2 separate regions of the Homo sapiens genome follow, and region 2 is linked to region 1. The links come from fine-mapping of genetic effects on gene expression. Tissue or cell type: unexposed skin. Region 1 holds a variant in brackets; the other region holds the start of a gene. All regions are shown on one strand. Distances are from middle to middle.

The links. PIP is the estimated chance that this variant, and not a neighbour inherited with it, causes the effect.
Region 2: it holds the start of EPB41L2, and the variant in region 1 is fine-mapped to the expression of EPB41L2 in unexposed skin (GTEx, PIP 0.95).

The regions. Positions count from the first base shown.
Region 1 is chr6:131,104,522-131,112,706 of GRCh38, reverse strand. The region is part of intron 2 of LOC102723445 (a long non-coding RNA gene); the gene reads left to right. Among named protein-coding and RNA genes, the nearest start is that of AKAP7, 27 kb to the left of the region's middle. RefSeq lists an enhancer at 7,472-7,641. The variant G/A (reference allele first, on the strand shown) is at 4,395.
Region 2 is chr6:131,060,228-131,068,412 of GRCh38, reverse strand. EPB41L2 (erythrocyte membrane protein band 4.1 like 2) reads left to right here and starts at 5,168. Exons shown (of 20, transcript NM_001431.4): 1 at 5,168-5,258. LOC105378004 (a long non-coding RNA gene) reads right to left here and starts at 5,010. Exons shown (of 3, transcript XR_942993.3): 1 at 4,797-5,010. RefSeq lists silencers at 4,932-5,271, 5,612-5,711.

The DNA of each region.
Region 1 (8,185 bases):
ATCAGAAGTTCGAGACCAGCCTGCATGGTGAAACCCCGTCTCTACTAAAAATACAAAAATTAGCTCAGCATGATGACATGCACTTGTAGTCCCAGGTACTCAGGGGGTTGAGGCAGGAGAATCACTTGAACACCGAGTGGCAGGCACTAGGTTGGCTATAATTTTAAAAGACAGACAATAAAAAATGCTGGCAAGGGTGTGGGGAAATTAGAAATGTCCAGTATAGCAAATCCACAGGGACAGAAAGTAGATAGGTGTTTGCCTAGGGCTGGGAGAGGGGTGTGGCTGCTAAGGGTTATGGGGTTTTATCTTTGGAATGATGAAAATGTTCTGAAATTAGATTGTGGTGATGGCTGCAAAACTCTATATAAATATTCTAAAAACTATTGAACTGTATACTTTAAATGGATGATCTGTGTGGTGTATGAATTGTATCTCCATAAGCTGTTAATTTAAAAAATGTAATAAATATGCAAACATATCACTTTCTAATTATTTTACAACATTTTACTATTGTCTAAACTCCTGAGGTTATTTACCGAAAGATGATGCCCAAGTGGCCCCAGGACATAGAATCAAATTGTGTATGATATTAAAACAACAAGAATTGTTTATCTCAACTAATATCTTGTTTATATCTTTGTAACAGACAGCCAGATGGTAGTGAGTGCTAATACTGTGTACTAATCCTTTAGGAGGACTAGTTTGCTTGAGGTTTAGACACAAACAGGAATGATCTGTGCCATTATAAGAAATATAATGATGTCATGAAGGGCTTTATGATAAATAAAATGATTAGAATATGGTATTAAAAATATGTAGCCATTTATCCTATTGCATTTCATCAAGAAATATTAAATATTATAAAAAATGCAAAAATGAATTTTCTCATTCTTGCAAGCAGTCAAGTCTCAGCCGGAAAAATGGAAGTCAATTTAAATATTTAAAGATAAAAGGCTTTAATTTACAGAGAATTAGGTATAGGTACTGTACTTATAAATTTTTGCAAGGGCATAAGGAATGAAAGTCGGAGGAGCTGCCACCAGCTTTCACATTCACAGTCCAAAGAATCTGAAACTTCTTGCTTTCATGCAGAAGTCAGGAGGATGTAAGAGACTGAAATCAATAGTCATGATTGCCCTGAAGTCCTGGGGTGAACGACACAAGGGAATATAGAAGTTGCTGCAAAAAGTCACAACTTCGGGCGGGGTACAATGGCTCACATCTGTAATCCCAGCAATTTGGGAGGCTTGAGGTGGTACGATTGCTTGAGGTTAGGAGGTCGAGTCCACAGTGAGCTATGGTGGTCCCACTGCACTCCAGTCTGGGTGATGGAGTGAGACCCTGTCCCCCCCCCAAAAAAAATAGTTACATCTTCTTAAGTCCACATGTCAACCAACACAATTGAAGAAAGAGGAATGGATTCTGTCTTCTGCCTTGTAATTTAAGCACAAGTACACCTCATGGGCAGAATCTAAACTGTATTTGGTTTACAGGGACTATGAAAAGACAGTTCTCATTCATCAGCCCCTGACATGAAGGGGTGAGTATCAAAGGAAATAGAAATAGTGCTGAGTACCAACAAATCATATATGACTTATTTCCCTCAAGGGTAGTCAGGTAATTTTTTGAGACTGTATATAGCATGAGTTTGGGGTTGTTCTTATTGATAGGGGATGCAAGTTGCAGAAATTTAGTTTTTCCCTGAGATAACATCTTGACATGTCTCGAACCATTAGATTCCTAGACAGTTTACCAAGTTGGCAGGCCCTGAAGTTTGTTGGGAGATTATTTTCCACCTTCTATCACACATATAAATATATATGTGTGAAATATATATATATATAAGAATGTGAATTCCTCTCACTTGGTCCAGTCATCATTATGTCACTAATGTAGTGGGCCAGTGTGAAGCCCTACAGGATGACAGGACTATCAAAGTTCCTAAGGGCTAGATTAAGACTGAGAGCTAGAGACTTGGCATAGCTCTGAGACAGGACTATTGTGTACTGCTTACACTTCTGTGTAAATGTAAGGGGCTCCTGTGATCTTTACTTATTGGTATAGAATGGGAGTCAGAAGACTAGAGTCTGCAGACTGGACATTTGTTTTGTAAGTAAAGTTTCTTTGGAACACAGCCATGCCCATTCATTTACATATTGTTCGTGGCTGCTTTCACCCTACCATAGCATATTGAGTAGTTGGGACAAAAACCTTTACAGACCAGCCAAAATATTGCCCTCAAACTCAAGATAAACAGAAATAAAACAAAGTCTTAAATTTAAATCTAAAACAAAACCATGGCCCCTTTATGAAAAACATGGGCTAAAATGTATTAATAATGGTTAAAACCAAGTGCTTTTTTTTTTGAGAGATTTGCAATAATTAATACCTATTTAAGTGGGTTTTCCCCCTAGGTCTTTATATTCTAGTATAAAACAGCCAGAGCTGGGCTGTTCTCTTAACCTCTGATCAAATAAGCCTGTTTAGAAAAATCTATGTGTTTTGCTTATATCATTGGGCAAAGTAATTTGTAATATATGATTGACATAATAAATCATCACTTCTAATAAAGCACATTTTTAGAAAAATAAAATTTCTGTGCACCTGTTTTAAAAAGCTCCAGTGCACTTTCCAGCTCAGTCAGAATCCTCATTTGGAATTAACTGGGGGTCCCTGGTTCCTGCTGAAGTTACATATTGACCTGAATGAAACAGGCTGGCCTCCAGCATAGACTCCAAGCTCTGTGTTTATTGAGTCAAGAGTAAGGATCTTCTCTCTCTTAAATCTAGTGGTGGGCAGGGAGAGGACAGGGGCCAAAGATAATTGACTGACCTTTTAATTTATATTGCCATTTGCAGACACTTTTCTTGTATTTTTGAATTCTTATTTTGTCACAATAATTTGAAATTATATAATGCTTCCTAGGTTAGTGAGCATTTTCAGAAACATCATTTGATATCCATATCAACTCAGAAAGTATTTTCTTCTCACATGTCATAGATGAAGTTCAGAAATAGTCAGTAAATCATCCAGGTTCACAGAAAACAAGACCAAAAGTTACTAATACTCACCAAGCATCCATTAGATGGCAGGCACCATCTCAAGCCAGAACTCATATCTTGACTTTTAGACTCTGTATTAGTCCGTTCTCACACTGCTATAAAAATAATATCTGAGACTGGGTAATTTATGAAGAAAGAATTTTCATTGACTCACAGTTCCCCATGGCTGGAGAAGCCTCAGGAAACTTATGATCATGGCAGAAGGGGAAGCAGTCACCTTCTTCAGAAGGCAGCAGGAGAGTGAGTGCAGAAAAAACTGTCACCTTTAAAACCATCAGATCTCGTGATAACTCCTTCACTATCTTGAGAACAGCATGGGGGAAACTGCCCCCGTGATCCAAACACCTCCCACCAGGTACACCTCCCTCCACATGTAGGGATTACCATGCGAGATGAGATTTGAGTGGGGACACAGAGCCAAACCACATCAGACCCCAAGTCTAATATGGTCTGAATGTTTGTGTCTCCCAAAAATTCATGTGTTGAAACCTGATGTCCAATGTGATAGTATTAAGAGTTGGTGTCTTTGAGAGGTGATTAGGTGCCATCTATGAGAAAGCAGGCTCTCACCAGACACCCACTGAATCTGCCAGCACCTTGATCTTGGACTCCCTACCTCTAGACTGTGAGAAAAAAAAAAACCAACTGTTATTTACAGTACCCAGTTATGTACTCAGTTATAAATAGGTCAGTTTATTGTATTTAGTTATAGCAGCCTAAATGGATTAAACAAAGTTTAATATTCTTACTATCACAATGTATTAATTCCCATTCTAGTGAGTACTGGGGATAGTAGTGATGGTGGTAACTTTTAAACATACAAAAATATGTCAAACACTACCCCTCAAACTGAGAATAAGATGACTAGGAGAAAGGAGACATAACTATCAAACTTTAAGGCAAATGCTGTGTATAAAGTTATTGAATGAATGGTTTTAAAAGTATTCTTATACTACTGCATGAAGAATTAAGCTGAAGAGCAAGAAGAACTTTTTTCTTTCTTTCTTTCTTTCTTTCTTTCTTTCTTTCTTTCTTTTTTCTTTCTTTCTTTCTTTCTTTCTTTCTTTTGAGATGGGGTCTCGCTCTGATATGGTTTGGCTGTGTCCCCACTGAAATCTCAATTCGAGTTGTATCTCCCAGAATTCCGACACGTTGTAGGAGGGACTTAGTGGGAGGTAATTGAATCATGGGGGCTGATTTTTCCTGTGCTATTCTTGTGATAGTGAATAAGTCTCATGAGATCTGATGGGCTTATCAGGGGTTTCTGCTTTTGCTTCTTCCTCATTTTTCTCTTGTTGCCAATGTAAGAAGTGCCTTTCACCTCTCACC[G/A]TGATTCTGAGGCCTCCCCAGTCATGTGGAACTGTAAGTCCAATTAGACCTCTTTCTGTTCCCAGTTTCAGGTATGTCTTTATCAGCAGCATGAAAACAAACTAATACACACTGTCACCCAGGCTGGACTGCAGTGGTGCAAACATGACTCACTGCAGCCTACACCTCATGGGTTCTAGCGATTCTCCTGCCTCAGCCTCCCAAGTAGCTGGGACTGCAGGCACACATCACCAAGCCCAGCAAATGTTTGCATTTTTTGTAGAGACGAGGTTACGCCATGTTGCCCAGGCTGGTTTTGAACTCCTGAGCTCAGGCAATCTACCTGCCTCAGCCTCCCAAAGTGCTGGGATTATAGGTGTGAGCCACGGTGTCCAGCCTTCAGAAATTTTTAAGAGTTTAGTTGTGATATTCTGAAATATCTAAGCCCAGGAAGTTGTGTCTCTGGATAATTATTAAGTTTTTGTTTGTTTGTTTTGTTTTGTTTTGTTTTTTGAGATGGAGTCTCACTCTGTCACCCAGGCTGGAGTGCAGTGTCATGATCTCGGCTCACTGCAACCTCCACCTCCTGGGGTTCAAGCTATTCTCCTGCCTCAGCCTCCCAAGTAGCTGGGACTACAGGTGCACACCACCACGCCCAGCTAATTTTTGTATTTTTAGTAGAACGGGGGCTTTACCATGTTGGCCAGGCTAGTCTTGAACCCCTGACCTCAGATGATCCACCCACCTCAGCCTCCCAAAGTGCTGGGATTACAGGCATGAGCCACTGCACCTGGCCTAATTATTACTATTAAAGAGCAAACTTATCTTTTGGGAATGATTCCAGCGTAGTCCTGCTTAAAGTCAGCAGCTGCATGAAATGTTTCCCTTCCAGTTCTGTTATTCTATGATACTCCCTCTAGGAAGAGGGTGTTTTTCCCTCCACTTTATCTCCTATACAGTCATTGTGAAAGACTTTGTAATCTCAGATAAGAATATGCTTTTTGAAGTATGTGTCATCAAGCTCTGTGCAAATGTGAGGCAGAAACAAGTATGCTTTTCCTTGGCTTCTTGCTGAGGTCACACACTACCAGATTTGCCAGAGTTATTCACTCATTAATTTATCTGATAAACATTTATTTTACATACACTATGTACTTGATTTGTAGATTATAAAACAACTTTAGTAAAACCATTTCCTATCTAATAGATTTTGAGTGGCCTTGTCAAAACCAATTCTAGTGACACATATGAATTATTATCTTCATTAGAAAGCAGTTTCAAGTGCCTGGAACCCTAAGGCTAGGTAATACATGAAGGAAACTAAACAAGCATCCTTTTGTCATTCAGGGCAGGGGTCAGCAAACTTTTCTGTGAAGGGCCAGATTGTGAACATTTTAGGATTTTAGGGCCATATGGTCTTTGTTGCAATGACTTAAATCTCCCTTGCAGTGCAAAAGCAACCATACAAAGTATGTGAATGAATGAACATGGCCATGTTCCCATGAAACTTTACTGATGGGCTTAAATTTGAATTTCACATAGTTTTCATGTAACACAAAATATTACTTTTTTGACATTCTAGAAACCACTTAAAATGTGAAAACCATTCTCATCTTGCAAATCATACAAAAACAAGGCAGTGGATCATCATTTGCTAATCCCTGATCTAAGGAAAAAAGAAAATATAGTTGTAGATGAACAGAAAGGACATGCAGGCAATATAATAAAATGTCAAAATAAATATAAAACTAAAAGGTAAATATTTAAAATATGTTAATGTCAAGAGTCTGAAAGATGATAAAGTGTTATGTGGGTTTCATTTCTGGATGGAGCAGATTTGGCTCTCCTTAGATGAGTAATTTCAGCCATCGGTAGAGAAGGACTCCAAATGACTGCATTCTAAAAGATAAAAAATAAGGACTTATTTTCAAATGTGTCACAGCGCTTAGCCTTATGTTGTCTGGAAGTTGAAGTGCTTCCCACACAACCCTCTGTACTTAGCTACTATTTTTGTTTTTTAAATAACTGACCTGAATTTCCAAAACTATGTGTTACTTGCAGAAAGTATGGTAGACAAAGGAGAAATGGTATATTACAAGAAACCTCTTGATAAGCTCTCTTAATAAAATCAAACTCTAGCCATCAAGGTTTAGAATGGAGGTAGGGTGTTCAAGTGAAGACTGTGACTAGAGCTAGGAGTGGGGACTGGAACTCACAGACCTGATTGGAGTCTCTAGAAGCTCCCCACGTTGACCATCTCCTGTGCCTGGCCTCACATCCTTTTGCCTGTCTTTAGTTTAGTTATTACTCCTGTTGGAAACAGCTTCATGTCTTATCACCCAAGAACAACTTTCCTCAGTTTTATTTATTTATTTATTATTGCTTTTTATTTTTGAGACAGGGTCTCACTCTCTTGCCCAGGCTGGAGGGCAATGGTGCCACCATGGCTGTCTGCAACCTCAGCCTCCTGGGCTCAAGCAATCCTCCCACCTCAGCCTCCAGAGTAGCTAAGACTGCAAGCGTGCACCACCACCACATCCAGTTAGTTTTTGGGTTTTCTTGTTTGTTTGTTTGTTTTTGTTTTTGTTGTTGTTGTTGTTTTGTAGAGACAGGGTCTCGCTATGTTGCCCAGCTTGGTCTTGAACTCCTGGCCTCAAGTGATCCTCCCACCTCAACCTCCCAAAGTGTTGGGATTACAGGCGTGAGCCATCGAGCTCGGTCCAGTTGAACTGTTTAACTCTCATGTTTTATCCTGGGACTATCCTATCCTGGGATAGCATAAGGTGGGATGTCTGCAGAGACCTACCTGGCATTCAAGCGAGTGCACACTGGAAGTGTGAGGGAATCAGTGCCCCATGGACAGTCCCCTTGCCTGGTTGGGACAGGAGATAGTGAGTCAATCAAATGTTCCCCTTTTCCTTCCCTTAACAGACAATTCTGAGGCTCCTTGGAAGGTCCTGGCAAGATAGCATCCTTTTATTGGCTTTTTTTTTCCTTTGAGGGTCAGTTTAATATTCCAAGCTGTTTTTACTCATAATACTTTTGGCACCAAATGTGTGGGTTGTTTCCATGCCAACAACCAGTTCTCCAACCTTCCAGATACCAACTGGGTATCCTACAATTGAATTCAATTCCTACAGTAACTAACTGGAGTCGTGTCAGATTCCGCAGACTCACTCCCACAAAACTGCCTTCGTTTCAGATGCCAGTTGCAAGTATCTTGCTTCCATCAGTACTTCTGACCAACTGACTATTAATCACAGGTTCCTATGACCCCTTCCTCAGGTTTTATAATTTGCTAGAATGGTTGATAAAACTTGGGAAAAGACTTTATTTATTATCACTGCTAATTACTAAAGGAGAGAAATGAACAGGCAGCTGAGGAGATACACAGGGAGAGATCTTGAAGAGTCCTGAGCACAGGAACTTCTGTCCCCGTGGAATTGGGGTGTGCCTCCCTCTCAGCATGTAGATGTGTTCTACAACCCTGAAACTGTCTGAATCGTATTGTTTAGGGGTTTTATGGAGGTTCCATCATGTAGGCATGATTGATTAAATTTTGGCCATTGGTAATTGAACTCAATCTCCAGCCCCTCTCCCCTCCTCAGAGATCTAGGAATGGGGCTGAAATTTCCAACCCTTTAATCACATGGTTAATTCCTCTGGCAACCAGCTCCCATCCTAAAGCTATCTAGGGGCCCAACAAGGACTGGGTGCAGTAGCTCACGTCTGTAATCCTAGCACTTTTGTAGGTCAAGGTGGGAGGATTGCTTGAGCCCAGGGATTCAAGCCAGTCTGGACAGCAAAGCAAG
Region 2 (8,185 bases), 44 kb after region 1:
GTTCACCTTGACTGGGTGCTCTTGCACAAGGCACAGCCTTATCAATGTGTGCAGAGCCTGTGCCTGCTTTAGCATCTGCTTATCTTTTGGGATTTGCTCTTCCTCACAGATTCTAGCCTCTCACAATTACTTTACCTTTTCTACCAGGCTCAGCCATGTATTTTTTAAATGCTTTAAAAAATTACATTCATCATTTTTAGGTGTTATGCCCTGGGAATTTTCCTCCGAATACCGGATCTATCAAATTGTAGGAAATTGAAGGTACCTCACTCATTTTCAATTAGGTTCACTCTTTCAACAAATGTTTACTGAAGAAGCCCTTTATGAGTTGCAGTGCTTGGAACTAAAATACAATGGTACAGAAAGCGAAGTCCCTGCCTTTGCAAAACCTATGGTTGAGTCGTCCTTTTTCATTTTCTGGGTGTGTTCTTCTTCTCAGCTATTGCACCCTCCTGGAAGGTTTTCCTCTGGAGAGAGTGGGATTATAAGCAGTAAGAGCATACATATAACCTTAAAACCCCTATCCTTCTAAGTGTTTTCTAATAAGTAGAACACATTTGTGTGCCTTGGGAAACCACACAAAACTAAACTGAAGAATGGTACTTTGCTAATACCAACCTTCCGCCACACATCTGTTTTGAATAAACGAAGGACCACTCTCTAAGATGGTCCATTTTCCAAAGGGAGGAATTTGTTTGCTTAGAAACGGCAACATTCCAGCTCCAATCCCACTGTCGCCACTATTTCCGGGGGCTATTTTACAAACTAGCCAATCAAGTCTGGGCTATGTAAATATTTCAAGGATATAATCCAGGGGATTACTCTTCTAATTTTCCCCCTGGTACTGTAATTCAACAGCCTCTTCTGCTGCTCTGATTGTCGCTGTTGATGGATTTTACCACCATTTGCTGAGACCACTTACAAATTATGCTCCTCAGGCAAGGCTCCCCAGCGTGGGCCCAAGGAATTTGGCTCGCCTTGTCACACCACATCAGAAGTTGTCTATGGTATTGTGGGGGTAATTCTGTCTGTCCAGCAAAGTCCAATGACACTGCTTAAAGGTCATTTTACCTTCCTCATCCCCACATCTAATTAAGTGGGCAGTCTGCTGACTGCAGGCATGTAGTGGAGTGGGGTGGTCACATGCCAGTCCACTTTTATTAAAGTTTGGTGTTCTGTCTCAATCATTTTCCATAGCAGGACTTCTGCGTATTCCCTGCAAAATAGGAATCTAAAGAGCCCTTTAGGCTCTTTTCAGAGTCTCCTCTTTGCTTTGACTATGTCTATGAATGAGCCTGGAGCCTTCTCTTTTGATGTCTCTTTGTTTTTTTGTTTTTTGTTTTTTGTTTTTTTTTGAGCGGGAGTCTGGCTCTGACGCCCAGGCTGGGGTGCAGTGGCGCCATCTTGTCTCACTGCAACCTCTGCCTCCTGGGTTGAAGCCATTCTCCTGCCTCAGCCTCCCGAGTAGCTGGAATTACAGGTGTGTGCCACCACGCGCTAAAATAATATACATATGTGCTTTCCAAATGTAGCTTTTCTGGGACTTTTATTGGATCTGTACCATTTCTGTTTTCAGCTCTAGGGAGCAATTGATTATGAGATGTCATGAGGAGCAACTCTGAAGACTCTGTTCCAGCTTAAGGGAATCAGCCAGTCCATCCCTGTTTCTCTGTCATTGAGCCTAATTAAGTAGGGTGTGTGTGTGTGTGTGTGTGTGTGTGTGTGTGTGGCAAAACTCCAACTACAATTGAGAGAATACCTCAGTTTGGCAGGCTTGAGATGCATATACCTGTTATTAGCCATAGTTGGGAGTGGCTTTTCCAAAGATGACATCACTTGGTGTGTCTTAGATGGAAAGGAGGTCCTGTGATGCTTTTGATAAAAAATCTGTATAAAGAGTTGCTTGAGGGCCAACTTGAATACCAGACTAGAAAAACATGGTGCCTGTAGTGAATTGCTTACAAGATGTCTGTCAACAATTTTCCCCCTCACTGTACAGACATTCCACGCCTCCTACCAAGAAGCAAAGTCTATGACCCCTCTCCTTGAATTGCGGCTGGCCCTCTGATTTGCTTTGACCAACAGAATGGAGCATAAGTGATGCTGTGTGACTTCTGGGCAAAGCCCTTGCAGGCCTTGCAGCATTTGTTTTTGTTCTCTTGGAAGCTGGGTGTCATGTAAAGAAGTCTGGGTTATCCTACTAGATAGGCCACATAGAGGATGGAGGGAGGGAGCGCGTGCAGAAAACAAAGGGAGACAGAGGGAGAGAGAGAGAAACAGAGAGAGAGGGAGAGAGAGAAAGAGTCTGGAGGATGAGAGTCCATGTGGAGGAGAAATTAGGTGCCCCAGTTGACAGGCAGCACCAACTGCCAGACATGTGAGTGAAGCCATCTTAGATCCTTTATCCACAGTTGAGCCTCCCAGCTGAGCATTGCTTGAATTCCTGCCCCAAAGAACCACAAGCAATAAAATGGTTGTTTTAAGTCACTAAAGCAGGGTCTTGTAGTCCAGTTGAAACTGAGCCAAAGTTGGCCAGGTGACAGAGTGACTCCTGCAGTCATTTGTGTGATATGTTTGTTGCTGTGGCAGTGGAACTGGGATTGCATGAATTCACGATGAAGCTTGAGAATGCCTTAGAAATAGTAGGAGAGGGCATTTTCAGGTCTTGCTGCCTGTGGACCACGTAAAGGAAGGGCAGGTCCTCAACCCAGAGCCACTCCAACCTGGTTTGGGCTTGGCACACAGAAGGCACAAAGATAAAATGATGACTCATGGATATAGTGAGATCAAGCTCTTCCAGAGGCCACGCCTATGGGGGTGAGTTGGTAAGTAAGGGCACTAAGGAGGTCCTGGGTACATTTCTAGTCCATACTTCCAGACTAACTTTGCTTGCACATAGTGCCCAGGATTGAGGCTATTATGGTAAATTTGGATGTGGTAGCTCTCAGGACTAGTACCTATATTCTTCTCTTGTTCTCTGTGTCAGTCCTTTGCCTGTTACTACAGTGTGTCTAGCAGGAAGACCCAATCTTGTTCTACCTAGAGTGTTTTCCTGGGGATTAACATTCTGCCCTTGAACTGCAGCCTGGTAGTCCTGACAGTGCTTCCGCCTGCCTGAGTCTTTGGATGTCACCTATTCCAGGACTTTGTCCTTCTTTCTGTTCAAACCCCTCTTCTCTTCTTGTTAGACTTCCCTGGTTGTCTGGACTACCACCTGTTGTTTGCTAAATCTCTATGATGCCACTTCCATCAGTTTTCTTCACTTCCTTATAGCTTCTGGGACTTGATTTTTCTGCCCTCAGTTCCTGCTAGGTCCTCACTGAATCTGTTCCATTCCATTAAAATGCCAGGGCTATGTAAGGCTGTGTCCAAAAACAGAGTTCAATTCTTCTTTCACACAATAGCCTTTATACATTTGACAACCTTTTTATCACCTTTAATCATCTCTTTAGGCTAAATCTTGCTGGTTCCCACATTTTCAAGGTCACCCATTTATGGTTATAATTTAGCTTATCAATATTTTCTTTTGGAGGGAAAAATTTCTTCTTAAGAGGTGGCATATAGGAGTGATTCATGTACTTCAACGCAGAGTATAGTAAGCATATCCTTTCTTATGAGAAGGGCATTATATTTTATTAACTATGCCTATATTTATGTTATTTTGCACTAGCATTTTAAAGGGGGCTCCATCAGGGTGGTTCAATGTTTTATGGGCCCAAAAGCTTATATGACTTTAGGGACTCTTTAAAAAACACAAAATGAAATACAAAATTATAAAGTTAGTTTCAAGGCTTGTGAAAATGAGAGATCCCGAAGTTTGTTTCATTAGTTTCGTTGTAAATCTGCTGCATATTTCTTATTATGAGAAAATAATAGTATTTTCTCATTAAATTCCCAGGTCTCCTTTACCAGAATTGCTGTCTAATCAGATTTCTGCTCTGTTTTAGCACACCTTATAAAATTTAACTTGTATACTTAGCATATGGGATTGTGATTAAATTAATACATGTAAGGGACTTAGAACAATGCCTAGCACATAAAGCACACAATCAACCTTAACTATTATTATTTGTATTATTTACTAGAAGGACCTTGGCAAATAATTTATCTTCCCAAATCTTTTTGATGTAATGGAGCTCAAACGTGCCTGCCTTTTTCATAGGGTGATTGTGAGGATCAAATGATGATAAAATATGTGAATGTATTTTGTTAACTGGAAGGTATTGTTACTGAGGTTTCATTTGACATTGTTAATTTTGGAAAAGGTTCTGTTTAGGAAAGAAAGGGAGACGACTTTGGCTGTGGTGGAATCACTAAAGACCTCAATAAAAGTGGGAGGAGTAAAAGGGATAAGAGGTGCGTGTGAGGCAGATGCTGGAGGCAGTGAGCTGGACACGTTGTTTGACACCAGCTTGACGTGCAAACCTTCAAAAGATGAAATATATTGAATCTGAAACATATTGACCTCATTGTACAAAAGAAAAGAACCAGAAGGGTAGCGTGTGTGTGCTTGTGGCTTTCCACAATTTAGCCCCAAACTAGGTTTTTTCCAGACTCTTCTTCACCCGTGGTCATGCTCTGCAATCCAGATTCCCAGGCCTCTGCCCAGAGAAATCCTACTTACTCTGGGGAGGCCTTTCCTCCACGGGGTTTCCCCAACCCCTCCTGTCCCTCCCACAGGAAGAATAAATGGTTCCTTTTCAATGCCCTTCCTGTGAAAGCACTTTTTCCACTCTAGACTGAGGGAGACCCAGTTTTCCTTATTCTGCATCTCCAGGCTCTGCTCCAGTGTTTACCTCTAGGAAGGCGCTCAGTGAAGGTTTAGTCAGCAAATGCACTTTGAATAAATAACTTTTAAAAGTTGAGAGGACATTTAAGGCCGGGAATCGCAGTTGAGAACGCCTTGCCCAGGCGCATTAGCTGTCATCCGGGCTGCCCTGAGGGCGAAAGACGTCCTCCACCCCCGGGTCTCCGCGGCCGCGCTTGCCGAATCCCGCGGGAAAGGTCCCCCGCCCGCGCAGGGGCGGGGCCTGGGCGTCGGGGGCGGGACCGCCCGCGGGGGTTTCCGCGCCGGGGGCTCGTCCGGCGGGGTCGCGGGAGGGGCTTCCGCCGCGAGGGGGCGGGGCCGGCCCTCAGAGTCCTCTGACGGCCCCAGTCAGGGAATTTCAATTTGAAACCTAGCGGAGGGAGGAGGCAGGCGCGGCTGCCGGCGGCTGGGACTGAAGAGGGACGGGTCCCGCGGCGAGCGAGCTCCTGAGGTACGGCGTCGGGGTAAGGAGGCGTGCGGGGCTGCACGGGCCGGGCGACTGGTCAGTGTGGGGTTGCAGGGGCGGCTCAGATTTTTCCTCTGGCTGCAGCTGGGAAGCTGATTCCGGGCAGGAAGCGGTGGCGGGACGGTCCCACCGGGATGGGGGGCGGGGAGAGGGGGCCCGGCTTTGGGATTTTCTGCGGCTCCCTCTCTCCTTTCCTTCCCGGTCTCTGCCCGACCCGATTCTTGCCCGGGGGTCCGGGTCCTGTTGCTCCGGGCCGGATCCCGGCTTCGCTGCTCCCCGCGGTCCCCCTCTTCCCTCTTCCGGGGGACCGGGGCCGCGTCCCGGCGGAGCCAGGAAAGGCGGGGGCACGGGGAGGACGCCGTCCCCCCCGGGGTGCCGTGGGCTCAGGTCACGCGTCCGGGCCCCGTGGAGCAACAGCGGGAAAAATCCGGCTCCATCCCCCCCGCGGGGAGGGGGTCGGCCGCGGCGTCGCCCTTCAGGAGGAAGGTTTTAGGAGGGGAAGCGCGGGCCGGCCGCGCGCGTGGGGACTGCGGGAAGCCGGGCGAGGGCGGCGCGCCAGCCCCACGCGCGGTGCGGGTCGGGCCCGCTGTAGGCTCGCGTCCGCGCCCCCAGCTGCCGCCTGCGCCGTCTGGGAGCTGCGGAGAGGGACGCGTGTTTCGTGCTCCGATCCTTACAATTCCCACACCCAGGCCATCTCACCACAGATGGCTTGTTTTTTCTCCTCCTGCGCCTGGGGGCCGAGGGTTGGGAGCATTTTTAGGTGAGCAGCGGGGAAGGGCGAGGAGAACCTAAAGGAGCGCGACAGGGTTGAAGTCGGCGTCTGGGGACGCCATCCCCAGGCGCAGACGCTGCCCCCAGCAGCCTGAGGTCTGTGGTGGGACATCAGTTATGCTTCTCTAGATCGCTCACCTCCCCTGAGGTCAAGTTTTTTTTTTTATATATATGTATAAATAAAATGAGGTTTGGTGAGAAGAACTACTGCCTAGAGTCTATTATTTTGGGGAGGGGTCTGCGTATGGAGCCCTCCCTACGGACCCGGGTAGTCTTTCATTGAATTGCCCCATCAACACCACAGCTGCCCTTAATTTTAAGATCCCTGGGTGGATGGGAGAGAAGGTGGAATCTAGAGGAGCTGTGGCTATATTTTCGCTTTTCTGAATCACATCTTTCCCCAGTTTCTTGAACTTCTTGCCTCTGAAATGGCATGTGTGTGCCAGGCGTCTTGTTCCTCTTGTTACTGTTATTTAAGCTGTTTTAAAAAAACGACTTTCGCGGTTTTCCCCTCAGTTTTTCAGTCTTTATTTCCTCCCCCACCCTACGTTTTTATTGTTTTTTTCAACGGAATACATTATTTATCTGGTCTCTTTATAACGCTGTTGAGAATTAGCATTTCAGTTGGTGTTCTGTCAGATTTCACCTTGGACTTAGCAGTTGAGGGAAACTGAGTCAGTTTCTATGCTGCAGGGGCTAGGATTTAGAATTCTCAAGCTTTGAACAGGTTTCAGTGGGGGAACGAATAGTGCTTAATCCTATTCAGTTTCCCTTTGCAGGCTCATTGCTGTGAGAAATCACTGGGTGGCTGTTGCAGCCACTGATGGGGGCTGCATTGCAATGCAATCTTGAATTGTGATAAGGGCCAACTGGCTCCATCCGTTAGGCTGTGAGTTTGACACAACTTTTGAAGAGCTATGCTGTGTCACCTGTCAGAGCTCGAGTGGTCATTCTTTTAATTCAATTTAAGAACCACCATCAAACTTCAGATATCTATTCTTTGGAGGTTATTGGAGAACTGTACAAGTGGTAATGGCTTGGAACAATGGTGTGGATTTAGCGCTAATTTAATCCTATCCTGTCTTCCTCACTTCTTGGGCAGAATTCCCACTGAAGTCAGTAGTGGTCTTGTGTGCAGACAGACTGCCGAGAACAAGAGGCTGCTCATTTAGAGTAACGGGAAGGGACGGTTTCTTTCCTTTTAAAACATCCCTCTGTAAGAAAGACTTAGTCATAACAGTTCTTTAATCTTTAACCACTAGTCCAAGTAGTTGAGAGCACTTTTTGCAAAAACCTTCGAAAGAAAATTCGTGGATGAATTGAGCCACGTCCCTCGAACTCTTCATATATCTACGTTGCATGGTGATCCTTAAAAAAGATTAAAAGTGATTTTAAAAAATCAGTTAAAGCTATAATTTCAGTAAAATTTTTCCTAACTTTTGTAAAAAATGTAAACTGCCAGGGAGCATTTTGTAGCAACTAAGTGTGTATATTTCAAATCTGAAATTTAAGTCCAAGTAGAAAGAAGCAAATTTAATTTAGGGGATGAATCTGAAGAGAGGCCACCAAAAAAATAACCATCTAAATATAAAAGAAGGAAGTTCAGATATCTCTTGCTGTTTTTCAGGAGATAGCTTTAGGGCAGTTTGCTCACTTTCATACCTGTTCTTAACGATTTACTGACTGCCTGGGTCCATCATTAGATAATGCTAGCACTTGGAGGTTTCCAAATGAGTTTTGTGCTGATCTGAGTTGCTGAGCTAGTTAGATCCTTGGCTTCTTAACGTAACATTCTTGTGGCTTACCCTTTCCAAATTACTAGTTCTAAGGAATTGAGTTTAGAAAACCTAACCAGTGACCAGAATGTAAAAATAGGTATTTAAAAATCAGAACCATGTCCACGTGTACTACCCAACCACTTGCTTTCAACTAAAAATACTTGCAAAGATGACAAAGCAGTCCACAACCAAAATATTTATTGGTACAATTTCTCTGTAATTAGTAATATTGTACAGTTATGTTTAACATCAGGTTCTGCCCTGAATCACCCCTCTCATATTACTGTGGCTGGTGAACTACAAAGGTTGTATCTTTGCCATTTCATTTAGGAATATAGGGTTTATATTTTATATAGCAGAATG